2 separate regions of the Homo sapiens genome follow, and region 2 is linked to region 1. Evidence: fine-mapped expression QTL. Tissue or cell type: whole blood. Region 1 holds a variant in brackets; the other region holds the start of a gene. All regions are shown on one strand. Distances are from middle to middle.

Evidence for each region. PIP is the estimated chance that this variant, and not a neighbour inherited with it, causes the effect.
Region 2: UCP3 starts here. The variant in region 1 is fine-mapped to the expression of UCP3 in whole blood (TOPMed, PIP above 0.99).

What each region holds. Positions count from the first base shown.
Region 1 is chr11:73,947,830-73,955,933 of GRCh38, forward strand. DNAJB13 (DnaJ heat shock protein family (Hsp40) member B13) reads left to right here and starts at 3,197. Exons shown (of 8, transcript NM_153614.4): 1 at 3,197-3,308. The coding sequence starts at 3,241. The variant G/A (reference allele first, on the strand shown) is at 4,350.
Region 2 is chr11:74,005,760-74,013,859 of GRCh38, forward strand. UCP3 (uncoupling protein 3) reads right to left here and starts at 3,326. Exons shown (of 7, transcript NM_003356.4): 1 at 3,219-3,326; 2 at 1,158-1,378; 3 at 410-620; 4 at 1-174. The coding sequence starts at 1,283. It overlaps C2CD3 (C2 domain containing 3 centriole elongation regulator), which reads right to left. Exons shown (of 33, transcript NM_001286577.2): 33 at 6,959-7,766. The coding sequence ends at 7,626. RefSeq lists a silencer at 2,621-2,801 and enhancers at 2,935-3,574, 6,147-6,296.

The DNA of each region.
Region 1 (8,104 bases):
CTTCAAGTTGAAGAAAGGATTCGTATTTCATATTATCAACAAAGAGTTTGTTTTCAAAAAACATAAAAAGCCACTAGTCAGTTTTTTTTTTTTTTTTTTTTTTTGAGACGGAGTTTCGTTCTTGTTGCCCAGGCTGGAGTGAAGTGGCACAATCTCTGCTCACCGCAACCTCTGCCTCCCAGGTTCAAGCTATTCTTCTGCCTCAGCCTCCCAAGTAGCTGGGATTACAGGCATGCGCCACCATGTCCAGCTAATTTTGTATTTTTAGTAGAGATGGGGTTTCTCCATGTTGGTCAGGCTGGTCTTGTACTCCTGACCTCAGGTGATCCATCCACCTCGGCCTCCCCAAGTGCTGGGATTACAGGCATGAGCCACTATGCCCGGCCTGTCAGTTTGTAAAAAGGATAGTCAAATAGAAAAAAATGGGCAAAAACATAAATAGGTGTTTCACAATGAGGAAAAACAAATGGCCAATAAGTATGAAAAGATACTCAACCAAGAAATGCAAATTAAAATCCACAATGAGATGCCACTTTATGCCTACTATATTGGCAAACGTTTTAAAACTTGACATCAAGAGTTGGTGAGGGCCAGGAGTGTTGGCTCATGTCCATAATCCCAGCACTTTGGGAAGCTGAGATGGAAGGATCACTTGAGCCCATGAGTTCAAGACCTGTTTGCACAATATGGCAAGACCTCGTCTCTACAAAAAATTTAAAAATTAGCCTGATGTGGTGGTGTGTGCCTGGGTTTCCAGCTACTTGCGAGGCTGAGGCAGGAGGATTGCTTAAGCCCAGGAAGTCGAGGCTGCAGGAGGTTGAGCCATGATCGCACCACTGCACTCCAGCCTGGGCAATAGAGGGAGACCCTGTCTTAAAAAAAAAAAAGAGTTGGTAAGGATATGAAGCAAAAGAAACTGATACACTGCTGTTGCCAGCGTAAATTAGAAAACCACACCAGAAAACTTTGGCATTGCCTTGCAAAGTGGGCGCATATACCCAAATGTTCATCAACAGAGAGTACTATACAGCCTGTGACAATAAGTCACACACACAAATACCTACCATTTGTATAAATGATACCATTTATATAAAGTTCAAAAATATGAAAAGGTAAATATGTTGCTGTGGATATTTGCAGTGTGGCACTGGAGCTGGCTTGTACTGGCTTGGGAAGAACTGGCAAATGCCACAAAACAGCACACCACTGGGTACAGGCATATGGAGTAAAGCTCTAAAGAAAAGCAAGAGAATTACAAACAGGTAGGGAGGGGCACATCGGGGCAATATTCCTTCAACAAGGAATGTTCTAATGCTGCTCTTTTTCTTCCTAAGAAGAAAAAACAAATAGAAGTTAGCTGGGTTGAGGCGAGGGTCTGTGGTGGGTGGGGTGGGAGGTTCTGAGCAGAGGTAGCAGCAGAGGTGAATGAGGAGAGGGGATGGCTGGTTTGGGCAGTGGCAGGCACTGCAGTCCATTCTGACAAGCAGTGGGTGCGTGTAGGGCAGTGGTGAGAGCTCAGGTGGAAAGGGAGGCACCAGATCACAGAGGGCCTGTGTGCCATGGTAAGCAGTTTGGAGTTCACTCGAAGTAATGAGGAGTGTGGGCTTTGCAGAACAGAGACAAGGCAGGCAGGCCCGCGAGGAAGTTGTTGTGGTCTTGCTGAAAGATGAATCCAGAGCTGGGCCCTGATTATGAGGAGGAAGAGCAGAGGAGCTGGGCTTGAGAGGTTGTCTAGGAAGCAGAATGGACTGAGCTTGGTGACCAGTTGGATTTGGGATGTGCATGGAAAACAGGGCTCTGCTGTACTCAGAGAGGTGGAGCATAACTCCCTCACTGTAAGGGTGGGCCGCACAGTGACTGCCTTCCAAAGAGTGCAATACAGCAAGTGGGGAAGGAGGGCTGGCGCGGTGGCTCACGCCTGTAATCCCAACACTTTGGGAGGCTGAGGTGGGTGGATCACTTGAGGTCAGGAGTTTGAGACCAGCCTGGCCAACATGGTGAAACCCCGTCTCTAGTAAAAATAACAAAAATTAGCCGGGCATGGTGGCACATGCCTGTAATCTCAGCTACTTGGGAGGCTGAGGCAGGAGAATCGCTGGAACCCGGGAGGCAGAGGTTGCAGTGAGCTGAAATTGTGCCACTGCACTCCAGCCTGGGCGATGGAGTGAGACTCCATCTCAAAAAACAAAAACAAACAAACAAAAAGAAAAACACCAAACAAATTCCAATTGCAGGACATTCTACAAAACACCTGACCATTATTACTTAAACTGTCAAGGTCATCAAAAACATGGAAAGTCTGAGAAACTGTCACAGTCAGGAGGCACCAGAGGAGATGCAACAGCTAAGTGTAACGTGGCATCCTGGATGGGGTCCGGAACAGAAATAAGATATTAGGTTAAAACAACTAGTAAATCTGAATAAAATGTGGATTTTAGTTAATAATAATGTATCAATATTGGTCATTATTTGTGACAAATGTACCATACTAATGTAAGATGTTAATAATAGGGGAATGTGAATGCAGTGGCTCACACCTGTAATCCCAGCACTTTGGGAGGCCAAGCCGAGCCCAAGAGTTCAAGACCAGTCTGGGCAACATGGTGAAACCCCATCTCTACAAAACATACAAAAATTAGCCAGGCATGGTAGTGCACGCCTGTGTCTCAGCTACTTGGAAGGCTGAGGTGGAAGAATCCCTTGAGCCTGGGAGGTTGAGACTGCAGTGAGGTGTGATCCTGCCACTGCCCACCAGCCTGGGTGACAGAGTGAAGACCCTGTCTCAAAAACATGATAATGATAATAATAATAATAAAATAGGAGAATGTGGATGTGAGGTATATGGGAACTCTCTGTACTGTCTTCTCAACTTTTCTAAACTCTAAAACTGTTCTAAAATAAATGTATTTTTAAAAAATTAGCCAAATGCATTTCTTCTAAAACCTTTTTATTAAAACTAATTACTGCTCTCTTTAAAAACAAAAACAAAATAAAACAGAGCCCTGTGAGTCTTCAATTTCCGAGTTGAGTGACCTTTCACAGGGTCGCAGAATCAGCCCCAGCTCTCCCCCAGTCCTTTCACTGACTCCTCTCTGTGGCAGAGCTGAAATTTGTTTAGGGAAGTGGGACTACAACTCCCAGAGTGCACCTGTGCGGTTGTCAGGAGCAACCAAGGAAGCCAACTAACAGCCTTGCTAGAGTCTGAGGACTATCCAGGGCCTGACTGCCAGCTAGCCAGCCATGGGCCAGGATTATTACTCTGTGCTCGGGATCACTCGCAATTCAGAGGATGCCCAGATCAAGCAGGCGTAAGTTGGGGTGGGAGCCAGGCCTTAGGGGTGTGCTGGGGCAGGCCCTGCCCTCTTCTCTTCCAAAACGAGCTTTCCTGCACAGCTTAGCGCAGACAAGGTAAACCTTGTTCCTCCTTTCACTTCTTGCATACCTGTATCCTGGCTTTGGTCTGGGTCAGGGCCCAGGTTGGAAATTTGAACTCTTTAGTTCCTCAATCTGCTCCCAACCCATCTCCCTTTATGCTCCATGCCCTATATCCTCTCCTGGGTGCCTTGCTTTTCCCAGCAATGAAGTGGGGACAAAGGAGCCATTTGAACTTTATCTTGAATATTATGGAGAACCAGAGGCTTGTGAACAAGGGAGTGGCCAGGCCAGATGGATGTTTTAAATTCAATTCTGGCCATGATGGAGGTTTTCAGCATTGACTAAACTACATTCCTGAATACTTCCATCGGATCTTAAGGACGTTCTGGCTCGTTCCTAAGAAAGCCTACAACAGGAGTCAGTACATTTTTCTGAAAACATGTTTTTGTTTTTTGTTTTGAGACGGAGTCTTGGTCTTGTTGCCCAGGCTGGAGTGCAATGGCGTGATCTCGGCTCACCGCAACCTCCACCTCCTGGGTTCAAGCGATTCTTCTGCCTCAGCTTCCCAAGTAGCTGGGATTACAGGCATGCACCACCATGCCCAGCTAATTTTGTATTTTTAGTAGAGATGGGGTTTCTCCTTTTTGGTCAGGCTGGTCTCAAATTCCCGACCTCTGGTGATCCACCCGCCTCAGCCTTCCCAAGTGCTGGGATTATAGGTGTGAGTCACCGCACCTGGCCAAAAACATGTTTTTTTTTTTAACAAATATTTATTGAGCGTCTACCACAAGGGTTGAGAGGGTACTTCACTCCTGCTGCAGTGGTAGCAGCTGGAGATAAATGTCGGAATCCGACATCGACACTCCCTTACCTCATGCAGCTAGATTTTGTTGCTGAATAGATGTTGAATAAGTCACCACAACTGTGATGAGTGTTACAGAAGAGGAAGTATGGGGGGCTGTGGAAGTTATCTT[G/A]GAAGGAGAGAGACCCTTTAGGAGGCTGTTCGTGGTAATCAAGGCAAAAGATGAGGCCAGAGAAAGGGGAGGGAATGGACTTGGTAATTAAGTGGATCACTGGAGGGTGAAGAAAAGAGGAGTCCAGGATAACTCAATCAATTAAGTTAGGCAGTGACAATAGGTGTATGTTTTGAGTGTGTAGGTGCTGTTCTGAGAACTTTCCATCACTGTTTAACCCTCACAACAGCCCTGAGAATTAAGTGCCATTATTATCCCACAAGTGCACTAGTAAATGGTGGAGCCAGTGTTCAGATATCAGGCCTCCCAGAGTTGCCAGTCATGGGCCTATTCCTGGGCCAGGTCCTGTAGGGGATCAGTGGCATAAGTGGAGAGTCTGCGGTGTTGGAGAAAAAAGACACAAACTCATGAAAGGATCTGAGAACAATTCAGGACAGTGTATGATGTCACCCACTCTTCGGAGCATCTCATTGACCAGAAGGACCCATCCAGGGAAAGGTAATCAGGAGGAAGGGCAGTGGGCGTGCAGAAAGATAAGCACAGCTTAAGCACTGGAAAGGGCTGGATCAGAATCCAGATTCACTTACCTGCTAGCTGCGTGACCTGGGCAAATTACTTAACCTCTTTGAGCCGAAGTTTTCCCATGTCTAAAAATCATCATCATAATAAAGGTTGCTGTGAGATTGAAATAGGATTAGATGAGATAATGCATGTGTCCAGCAATCATTTGCATGTGAAACCATGTCATATAAAGAGTGATTAAGGCCTGGCATGGTGTTTCATGCCTGTAATCTGAGCACTTTAGGAGGCCAAAGCAGGAGGATCCCTTGGGCCCAGGAGTTTGAGAGGGCAGCCTGGGCATCATAGGGAGACCCTGTCTCTACAGAAAATTTAAAAATTAGCTGGGCATGATGGCACACACCTGTAGTCCCAGCTACTTGGGAGGCTGAGGTGGGAGGATTGCTTGAGCCCAGAAGGTAGAGGCTGCATTGAGCTATGATTGCACCACTGCACTCCAGTCTGGGCAACAGAGCAACACCTGTCTCAAAAAAATAAAAATGGCTGGGCCGGGCACCGTGGCTCATGCCTGTAATCCCAGCACTTTGGGAGGCCGAGGTAGGCGGATCACGAGGTCAGGAGATCGAGACTGTAGCAGGACGAGCCGCAGAAAAAACCTCTCAGACACCGAGTTGTAGAAGGAAGAGCTTTATTCAGCTGGGAGCATCGGCCAGCTACTGCCTTAAAATCCGAGCTCCCCGAGTGTACAATTTCTGTCCCTTTTAAGGGCTCACAACACTAAAGATTTCACATGAAAGGGTCGTGATTGATTTGAGCAAACAAGGGGTACGTGACGGGTTTCATGCACTGGTAGTCAGAGAGAAACAGAACAGGGCAGGGAGTTTCACAATGTTCTTCTATACAATGTCTGGAATCTATGAATAACATCGGTTTCTAAATTATGAGTTGATTTTTAACTACTGGGTTTAGGCCAGGCAGGCCCAGGCCTGGTTTCAGGCCTGGCGCTGGGCTGCCTGTCTTTGGTTTTACTTCCTTGTTGCTTTTTTTTAAAACAGGTACTGAGTATAAAACAATATGAGATGGTCGCTCTCTTCCCTCAAGACCATCCTGGCTAACACACTGAAACCCCGTCTCTACTAAAAAATACAAAAAATTAGCCGGGCACCTGTAGTCCCAGCTACTCGGGAGGCTGAGGCAGGAGAATGGCGTGAACCCGGGAGGTGGAGCTTACAGTGAGCGAGATTGCGCCACTGCACTCCAGCCTGGGCGACAGAGCGAGACTCTGTCTCAAAAATAATAATAAAATAATAATAATAATAATAATAATAATAATAATAATAATAATGGCTGGACACAGTGGCTCACACCTGTAATCCTAGCACTTTGGGAGGCTGAGGCAGGTGGACCACTTGAGGTCAGGAGTTTGAGACCAGCCTGGCCAACTTGGTGAAACCACTTCTCTATTAAAAATACAAAAAATTAGCCAGGTGTAGTGGCGCATGCCTGTAATCCCAGCTACTGGGGAGGCTGAGACAGGAGAATTGCTTGAACCCAGGAGGCAGAGGTTGCAGTGAGCCGAGATCGTGCCATTGCACTCCAGCCTGGGTGACAGAGTGAGACTTCGTCTCAAAAAAATAAATAAAAAAAAGTAGGCCGGGCGCAGTGGCTCACACCTGTAATCCCAGCACTTTGGGAGGCTGAGGCGGGCGGATCACGAGTTCAGGAGATCAAGACCATCCTGGATAACATGGTGAAACCCCGTCTCTACTAAAAATACAAAAAAATAGCCGGGCGTGGTAGCAGGTGCCTGTAGTCCCAGCTACTCGGGAGGGTGAGGCAGGAGAATGGCGTGAACCTGGGAGGCGGAATTTGCAGTGAGCCGAGATCGCGCCACTGCACTCCAGCCTGGGCAACAGAGTGAGACTCCGTCTCAAAAAAAAAAAATAAAATAAATAAATAAATAAATAAATAAATAAGGCTGGGCACGGTGGCTCATGCCTGTAATCCCAGCACTTTGGGAGGACGAGGCAGGAGGATCTCCTGAGGTCGGAAGTTCAAGACCAGCCTGGCCAACAAGGTAAAACCCTGTCTCTACTAAAAAAAATTAGCCAGGCGTGGTGACGGGTACCTGTAATCCCAGCTACGCGGGAGGCTGAGGCAGAAGAATCGTTTGAACCTGGGAGGTGGAGGTTGCAGTGAACCAAGATTGAGTCATTGTACTCCAGCCTGAGCAACAAGAGCAAAACTCCATTTCAAAAATAAATAATAAATAAAAATAAATAGAGTGATTAAAAGAACTATGTAGGTTTCAAAAAGCAGTCCTTAACCCTTCTCCCCTGCAATAACTCTAAGTCACATGTATGACATGCTTGCTCATGGGATCACCTAGATATTGATCAAAAAAAAAAAGAGCTAAACTTATATAAGGAAGAAAAACATCATGATAGTTTATAATTGCCCAGGATTCATAATTGCAGCGTTCAAGCTGTGATTTCACCCCTTTCTCTCCCACTCAGGAAAGCAGGTGAATGAGAGTGATGTTATTGCAGGGATAATTTTGAAACCACTCAAATTTATATGAAAAACTAAACCTTTCTCAAACCTTGTTACTTTTTTTTTTTTTTTTTTTGAAACGGAGTCTCTCTCTGCCACCCAGGCTGGAGTGCAGTGGCAGGATCTCTGCTCACTGCAACCTCCACCTTCTAGGTTCAAGTGATTCTTCTGCCTCAGCCCCCTGAGTAGCTGGGACTACAGGTGTGTGCCACTGTGCCCGGCTAATTTTTTTATTTTTAGTAGAGACGGGGTTTCACCATGTTGGCCAGCCTGGTCTCGAACTCCTGATCTCAAGTGATCTGCCTGCCTCGGCCTCCCAAATTGCTGGGATTACAGGAGACTGAGATGGGCAGATCACTTGAGGCCAGGAGTTTGAGACCAGCATGGCCAACACGGCAAAAACCCGTCTCTACTAAAAATACAAAAATTAGCCAGGTGTGGTGGTGGGCACCTGTAGTTCCAGCTACTTGAACCTGGGAGGCGGACAATGCAGTGAGCCCAGATCGCGCCACTGCACTCCAGCCTAGGTGACAGAGTGAGACTCTATCTCTAAATAAATAAATAAAAATAACTGACTGTGACCTTTATAATTGAGAAAGGCTGGTTTGGAAGGCTGTGACAATTGTCTTCAAGTCTCTGAAGGTAGATATTCTCTCTGTAAGGTCCCCAGGGCACAGCCAGGA
Region 2 (8,100 bases), 58 kb after region 1:
TGGCGATGGTTCTGTAGGCGTCCATAGTCCCGCTGTATTTTCTGTCGCTCCTGGATGGCCCGAGGTGTATGCTGGCCTGAAATCGGACCTTCACCACATCTGTGGGCTGGGCACAGGTCACCGCCATGGCTCCTGTGGTGCAGCCGGCCAAAATCCGGGTAGTGAGGCTGGAGTCTGGGAGGGGCAGAGAGAGTGGGCCAGTGTCCCCTACTAAGCAGCATTCTGGGACATGCTGTTCTCTGCGGGGCTGCCCCTGCAGCTTCCTTGATGTCCACTCAGAGCCTCCTCATAAGCGTCCGGTACCAGCTTCCCCCCGCCCCTGGCTCTGCCTCTGAGTCTAGACTTCCCTGGTCTCTTGACCCACACACTTTCAGCCACCCCTTTGGTGTTCAGGGACCTGGTCACTCACTGTCCGCGCCTTTGGGGGTGTACACCTGCTTGACGGAGTCATAGAGGCCGATGCGGATGGAGGCGAAGCTCATCTGGCGCTGCAGGCCGGCCACCAGCCCATTGTAGGGGCTGCAGGGACCCTCAGTCCGCACCATGGTCAGGATGGTGCCCAGCACGCCACGGTACTGCACGAGCCGGGCCGTCTGGACCGCCTGGTTCTCCCCCTGGATCTGAGGGACAATAGCAGGGGGTGAGGACTCAGATGGGAAGGCAAGAAGGGGCTGCGTGCACAGGAACCCTGCTGGGGCTGGGCCTGCCTGGGCTGGGCCTGAGAACAACCATGCTGGTCACAGTAGAAATCACTGGTGTCTGCGCAGCATTTTACCATTCACAAAGCAGTATTATACACATGGCTTGGTGTTTGATCCTCAGAGTAAATCAGAGGGACAGATTGTTTTTCCCATTTTATAAGTGCTTCGTGGCTTGCCCAAGGTCACACAGTTAATTCCTTACTTTTACCTCACACTGCATGCTTTACAAAGTAGGGCCTAGCCCATAAAGGGCCCTGTCACATCATGCAAAGAATTTAGATTTTTTTGTCCTGGTGGATGGTGATGGGAGGAGGCAAGGAAGGGTCCTAAGCAGTGGAGTGAGAGTCTTTGTCAGGGTTCTGAGGAAGGGCATGTGGGCACACGTCATGGGGGATATGGGAGAGAACTAGCCCCTCCTTCCATGTGATCAATGACCCTTGGCCAAAGGGCACCTACCTGCAGGCGGACCTTGGCTGTGTCCAGTGGAAAGGTAACGAGGTCAGCAAAACAGGCTGCTGTGCCTGCCCCCAGGAACTTCACAGCCATGGTGGGAGGCACGTCTGAAGGCTTCAGTCCAACCATAGTCCTGGAAGGCTCTGCCCAGTCCCTTTAGGGCCGAGAGGAGGTCCAAGGAGAGAGGCTGCTCCACAGCCCTGGGCTTCAGTGCAGCGGTGGGGCTGCAGGAGACAGGCCAGAGAAGGCTGATGGAGTGATGTCTGGCCTGGCTCCCAGGAACTCTTCCTTACCCAGGAGGGGCTTTAGAAAGGGAGAAGCCTGGGTGGTGCCATACTTAAGCTGCATGAATTTGGCCTATAAAAACAGGTCACGTTCCTATCCCTTGAATTTTGCAATCCTCCTCCTGACCCTCTCCCTCCCCTCCTTACCAGGGGTAGGCAGAGCTGATAGTGGTACCTGCACTGTATACATGAGGAAACCGAGGCTCAGGCATCTGTTCTCCCCAATATCAAACTGCCTCCTTTTTTTTTTTGAGACAGGGTCTCACTCTGTTACCTGGGCTGGAGTGCAGTGGTGCAATCCAGGCTCACTGCAGCCTTGACCTCTTGGACTCAAGTGACCCTCCCACCTTCAGCCTCCCGAGTAGCTGGGACTACAGGTGTGCATCACCATACCCAGCTAATTTTTTATTTTTTGTAGAGATGGGGGTCTCTCTATGTTGCCTATTCTGGTCTTGAACTCTTGGCCTCAGCGTGATCACTTGACAAGAGGGGCAGTTCTTAGCCACTCATGGAAAATGGAATGGATGGACACAGACTCAGGTCAAAAGCCCACCTTGGGGCTCTAGAACTTTCAGTAGTCAAGCTGCGGGAGGAGGGAAAGCCACAGTGGTGGGCACAGGTAGGAGGTGCCTTGAGGCCAGCACTCCCCAATCTTCTTCCCAATTCACTCCAGACTCTCCTAGACCCCTAGCAGCCGGCAGCCTTTTGCCACTGGCCAGTGGAGGAAGAAGTCAAAAGTGGAACCCTCATTACTGTAGCTCTGCTGGGGCTCCTGAGGGATGGGATGTTCTAGTCAGCATGGTCCATTAATGTTTGCTGGTTGCTTCTTGCACCAGATACCGTGCTGAGGGCTTTACAGACACTGACTGATTTGATCCCTTCATAAGGCTACAAGTAGTTGCTATTATTATTCTCATTTCGTAAACCAGGGACCTGAGGCTTCCAGGGCTTTTGCTAGTCATACAGCTGAAGTGCTGGAGCTGAGATTGGTGCCCACGTTTGTCTGACATCTGAAGCTGCGCCTGTTTCACTGCCCAGAGAGTCTCAGACTTCAGGGAGAGCCAAGGATCCCTTGAGCTGCTTGTTTACAGAGCAGATTCTCAGCTCTCAGCCCCAGAGATCCTGATTTAGGTCTGGGGTGGGGCCTAGGAATCTGCATTAGGAAAACTCCCTGTGGTAGCTCTGAAGCAGGGGAAGAGGACCCCATTTTGAGACATCCTACCCAACACCAGTTGCCTCCCCAACTCCAACCCACCCTCCCGGCAAAGCCTTCACAGCAGCCCACTGAAGAAGCCGTCTGGGCAGAGACCATGGGCTCTGTAAAGCTCCCAGCAAATGACCTGGACCACGCCTCAGGTCAGAAGTGCCCCTGTCATCCCTACTCAGGAAGAGGGCCCCAGGGTCCTCATGGAAAGAGAGGGATTTATGCTCTGGAGGAATCGCAGAGATTCTGGGGCAGGCAAAGAAGAAAGCCACTTCCTGTCTATGGGGATTTGCAAAATCCCACCAGAGGCAGCCAGCAAGGCAAAGGGGGTGTGAGTCTTGAGTGAGTGACACGGGTGTTGGGTTCAAGCCCCAGCCCTGCCACAGTACCCTCATCAAGGCCACAGCTCCCTTTTCATAAGGTGGCGGCTGGACTGAATCTCTATCAGGTCTGACAAGCTGCAGCTAGTGAGCCCTGACTGCTCGGGGCTGCTCTCTGAAAGCCTCCAATGAAAGGGAGAACAAGGAGAAGGGAGAGGGAGAGGGGAAGGGATGAGGGAGGAGAAAGGGGTCTTACCTGTGAGTCCTGCCACGGCAGGGGCAGCACAGGGGCTCCCTAGGGCTCCATCCCAGGAGGTGGCAGCAGGGATTGGATGGCCCCTCCTTGTCATTCACTGTTGTCTCTGCTGCTTCTGGCTTGGCACTGGTCTTATACACACGGGCTGACCTGAAACCTTATCCTAGAGAAGTTGGTTGACAGCCTGATCACTTGACAAGAGGCTGGCTGGTGAGGGCAGTGAGGTGAGAGGGGAGGTGAGTGAGTTCCAGATCTGGTTCAGTCCTCTTGACTTGGGGTGCTTTAATATAGCTCCTTTAAGCTGTGGACGCTTCCTTGGTGACAAGGGTGTATGGGGGGGTGGACCTGCTGCCACTTTTGAGTCCAAAGGTCAAGGCCTCCCACGATAGGCTGGGCACAGCTCTCCCAGGTCTCTTAATAATAATGTCATTTCTTTGTGCCTACTATGTGCTAAATATTTTACATACATTACTACTATTTTCCACAATCCTATGAGATAGGTACTATTAGGATTCTATTTTTTTTACTTTTTTTTTTTGTAATTTAAAATTTTTTAGTAGAGACGAGGTCTTGCTGTGTTCCCCAGGCTGGTCTTGAACTCCTGGGCTTAAGTGATCCTCCTGCCTCAGTCTGGCAAAGTGCTGGGATTATAGGTGTGAGCCACTGCACCCGACCTAATTTTTTTTTTTTAAATTACAGATTTATTGATATAGAATTCACATACCGTACAATTCATCTGTTTCAAGTGCACAATTCAAATGGTTTTTAGTATATTCTGAGTGGCACAACCATCAACACAATCTATTTTAGAACATTTTCATCACCCTCTCACCCTGGAAAAACTCCATACACATTGGTAGTCACCTCCCTTCCCCCGCTCCCCAGCCTCAGGCAACCACTAATCAATCTACTTTCTGTCTCTATAAATTTGCCTGTTCTGAACACTTCCTAGAAATGGAATCATCCAATATGTGCTTGTTTGTGACTGGCTTCTTTCACTTAGTATAGTAATGCTTTCAAAATTCATCCATGTTGGAGCCTGTATCAGTATTTCGTTTCTTTTTAGTGCTGGGGATCCTAAAATCTTACCACTTATTTTACTGAGGAGGAAATGGAATCTCAGGGAAGTCATGTAGCCAGCACGTGGCGGGGCCTGACTCCAGCCTGTAAACTGTAAGGCATTTTGGGCTTATCTACTGTGACCACCATTCTCTCCAACATGACACTTGGAGGCTTTAGCATGGACACTGCTGGAGCCAAGGGAGCTGGGACCTGGTGGAAGGGTGCCCCACAGAAGCTACTGGAGGCTCCATCTGTGGGCACTCAGAGTAAGGGCTGGGCACAGCTGAATCGGGCCCCAGGTGATGGGGGAAGGGGAGAAGAAGAAGAGAAGGGAGGGGAGGAGTGAGAAGCAGAAGGGAGGGAAGGAAAGGGAGTTAACTGGGTAGGGCAGAGGAGGAGTAGGCAGAAGTCTTTTCTGGACTGGGGCACAGAGCCAGCGTCACAGGGCAGGTGGTCAGAAGCATGGATGTTCAAGTGCAAAGCTTGGGCTGTACCTGTCCTCTTCCTTGGACCAGGCCCTGACCTTAATGTCAGCAGAATAAGCAGCTGCATTAGTGTTAAGAGGGAAGTGGCTGTCAGGGCTGCTGAGATTAGGAAGGCTCAGGAAGTAGGTTCTGAGCTCCATCTGTAATTGCTAGTCTAGAGGTGATGCAGTAAATTGCAGGGAGTCTGTGGGGGAAGAATAGAGTAGAAGCCCAAACCAGGAGGCAGCAGGCTCTGGAGAAACCTAGTGGGAGGGAGGGCCAGGCTCTCTTTAGCTTGGGAGCTTGAGGGCAGGGCCAGGTCTGCCTGCTTTGGCTCCATGTCCTGAGGCCAGCCCATGCTAGAAGTCCGAAGGCTGCCTGCTCTGGGTTGGGATGCAACCAGCCTAGGGATCAGAAACACCTATTCACAGGTCTCTGTGGAGGGAGGGCTCAAAGGGAAGAGAGGCAGCCACTGGCTCGTTCTGGTGGTGGGAACACCTATCTCATGCCTTAATCCATGCCACACGCCTGGTCAAGTCATTTATCTCGGAGTTGGCACTGGGAGATAGATTCAACTTCCGGGGATAAGATATTGATAAATAACACACTGTTTTGAAGTGGAGGTGGGAGGTCTCCACCCTCAGGGTCCTTTTGTGTTATCAGAGGCTGCTCTCAGCCTGGGGTAGGAGTGTGTCCTCCTGACCCCGATCAGGTTGTCTGCGGGAGCTGGAGTGGGATTTGGAGGAATATTCTTTACCTGGGGCTTTCCCCCTCAGGCCTGGGCCCTGACTGCCCCTCTTTAGGTCCCCTGGGCCCCAAGGGAAGTGGGGCCCTGGGCCTTGAATGCTCTGTGCTGGTGACTTGAGAGGGAGGCTGGCCTCTGTGGTGCTGGGGAGGGGTGGGCTGGCAGGCGTCGGAGCAGAGATAAATAGAAGCGGGAGGGCTTGTCACCAAGAAGGCAGCACCCACTCCTTCCTTGAGGTTCCCGCATCATTTTGCACCCTCTGAGGCCCAGGAGTGCTCTGCCTGCCCCAGTGGCTGCATGCTTGCCTCTCTACTGGTTTGCTCCCGAAAGTCAGGAGAGTGGGTGGGGCTGACATTTCCTAAGCTTCCACCATGTGCCAAAAGTAGGCGAAGCACTTTCACAAATGTCATCTCATTTGATCTTCCTCACAACCCCATGAAGCTGGGGTGATTATCTCTGTTTTACAGACGAGGCCACAGAGGCTCAGACGCAGTGAGACTGGTCTCTATCTCCAGCTGCACACTGCTCACAGGCTTTCCTGGCTCTCTCTCTATAGCTGTCCACAGCCTGGGCCAATTCTCTGTGCTCACCCCAAGACCTGTCTCTTCTAGGAAGCCTTCCCTGACTGCCCCAGCCCACATGGTCTTTCTCCATGAAGTCCCTAAATTCAGAGCACTTATTGGCTGTACCTTGTTTTGATTACTGAAAGCAGTAGCCTTGCAATACCTCTGGGATTTCTTGTGTGGTTAATCACTTCCTAACTACACAAACAGAGGCAAAACACTGAACTTACAGAAACTCTAGATATCATAATATCTAGAGTTAGAGAGCTGTTTTGAGGACTGAGTGAAGTGACATGTACTTGGGGGTGAAAGCCTGTTGCCCAGCCACACTGCTCACTCTGCACATTTGGCTCCCGCGACCCCATTTTTTTTTTTTTTTTTTGTGATACGGAGTCTTGCTCTGTTGTCCAGGCTGGAGTGCAGTGGCGTGGTCTCGGTTCACTGCAACCTCCACCTCTTGGGTTCAAGTGATTCTCCTGCCTCAGCCTCCTGAGTAGCTAGGACTACAGGCGTGCACCACGCCCAGCTAATTTTTGTATTTTTTTTTTTTTTAGTAGAGACGGGGTTTTGCCAGGTTGGCCAGGGTAGTCTCAAACTCCTGACCTCAGGTGATCTGCCTGCCTCGGCTTCCCAAAGTGTTTGGATTACAGGTGTGAGCCACTGCACCCATCCATGGCCCTTTTCTTGTCCTCCCCACGGGGCTTTGTCTGATGGATTTCAAGCATCAGCAAAGGAAATACTGGGTGTCACTGTCATCTGGACCAACCTGATTCTGGAGGAGCCAGAAGTCTCATGGTGATTGATCTTCGTCTGCGTGGGGTGTATGGTTGTTAATCTTTCTCTCTGGCAGTTAGGGCACACACGAATTCCTAGCATCCCCACTCCAGCGAAACACTTGTGCACAGATTACAAACACCAATATGATTTTATTCAAACACAGGCAAGAACAATGACCTTCAGAGCTGGGTAAAAATAATAAGTTAAAAGCATGGTTAGAATTTTAGACAATCAGATAAAAAGTTTGAAGGAAGTGATTTCCCCTTCCTCTCCTAATTGATTAATTCAACACAGCATAAAAATAATTTGTATCTATAAAATATCCTTGTTCCCACACAAATGAACTGGAGGTGGCCCTAGGATTTCCTTGACTATGCACAATGCACACAATCTACATGTCCCTCCTCCCCAACTTTTAAGGCAAAAATGGTCCTGCATCTTCAGGCAGAGGGTGGGCTCATGCCAGCAGTCAGCTGTGTCAAGGACACTGGGGGGCGTTTCTCCACCGAAAGATGCCTGCTTGGGTCCCACTTGGGCGCGGATTCCATTTTATTTCTAGCCTTTGCCTCACCACAGAAAAAAGGAGCTGAAATTCTGGCAAGTGGACACTGGACTGGTTTGGGGCACTCCTCCAGTCTGGGCTGACCGGGTCTCTTGAGGCATCCGTGGCCTAGGCAAGTGGTGGTTTCAGGACTGTGACAGCCCTGAAGGAGCCAGACCTGGTGCCTCCTGCAAGCTGGACAAAGCTGACGGAGGGTGGGCAGGTGTCTCCTTCCCCCCAGCCCCTCAGGCTGCGTCAGTCTTTCTGGGAGTACTGAGAAGAAAATATCCGTGCAATCCTGAGAGTTTCTTCCTCAGGCAGGTTGAGGGGGAGCGAGTTAGGTCTGGGGCGACAAGGCCTTTGGGAGAGAGCTCCCCTGGTGGCTTCGCTCTTGTCCTGGAGAGGAAGAAGTCAGCTAGGTTACCACTGAGGATATGGCACCACCAATGGATGACGCTGGTTTCTCTCATCTTTTGGTCCTTTGGTTAATATTTATGTAGAGCTGCCTGGTTTACAAAGCGCTTTACGTACCTTATCTTGCTTGACCCTTACCTCAACCCCATATGGGGGGTATATCATTCTCCCCATGTCGTGGATAAGGAAACTACATTCAGGTGGAATAAACTCAAGGTCCCACAGCTCTGAGTAGCAGAGCTGGGACGTGAACCCCAGCCCTGACTCTTTCTGTGCCTCTGGAGAAGGAGGCAGCGTCACCTCCAGGATAGGTTTG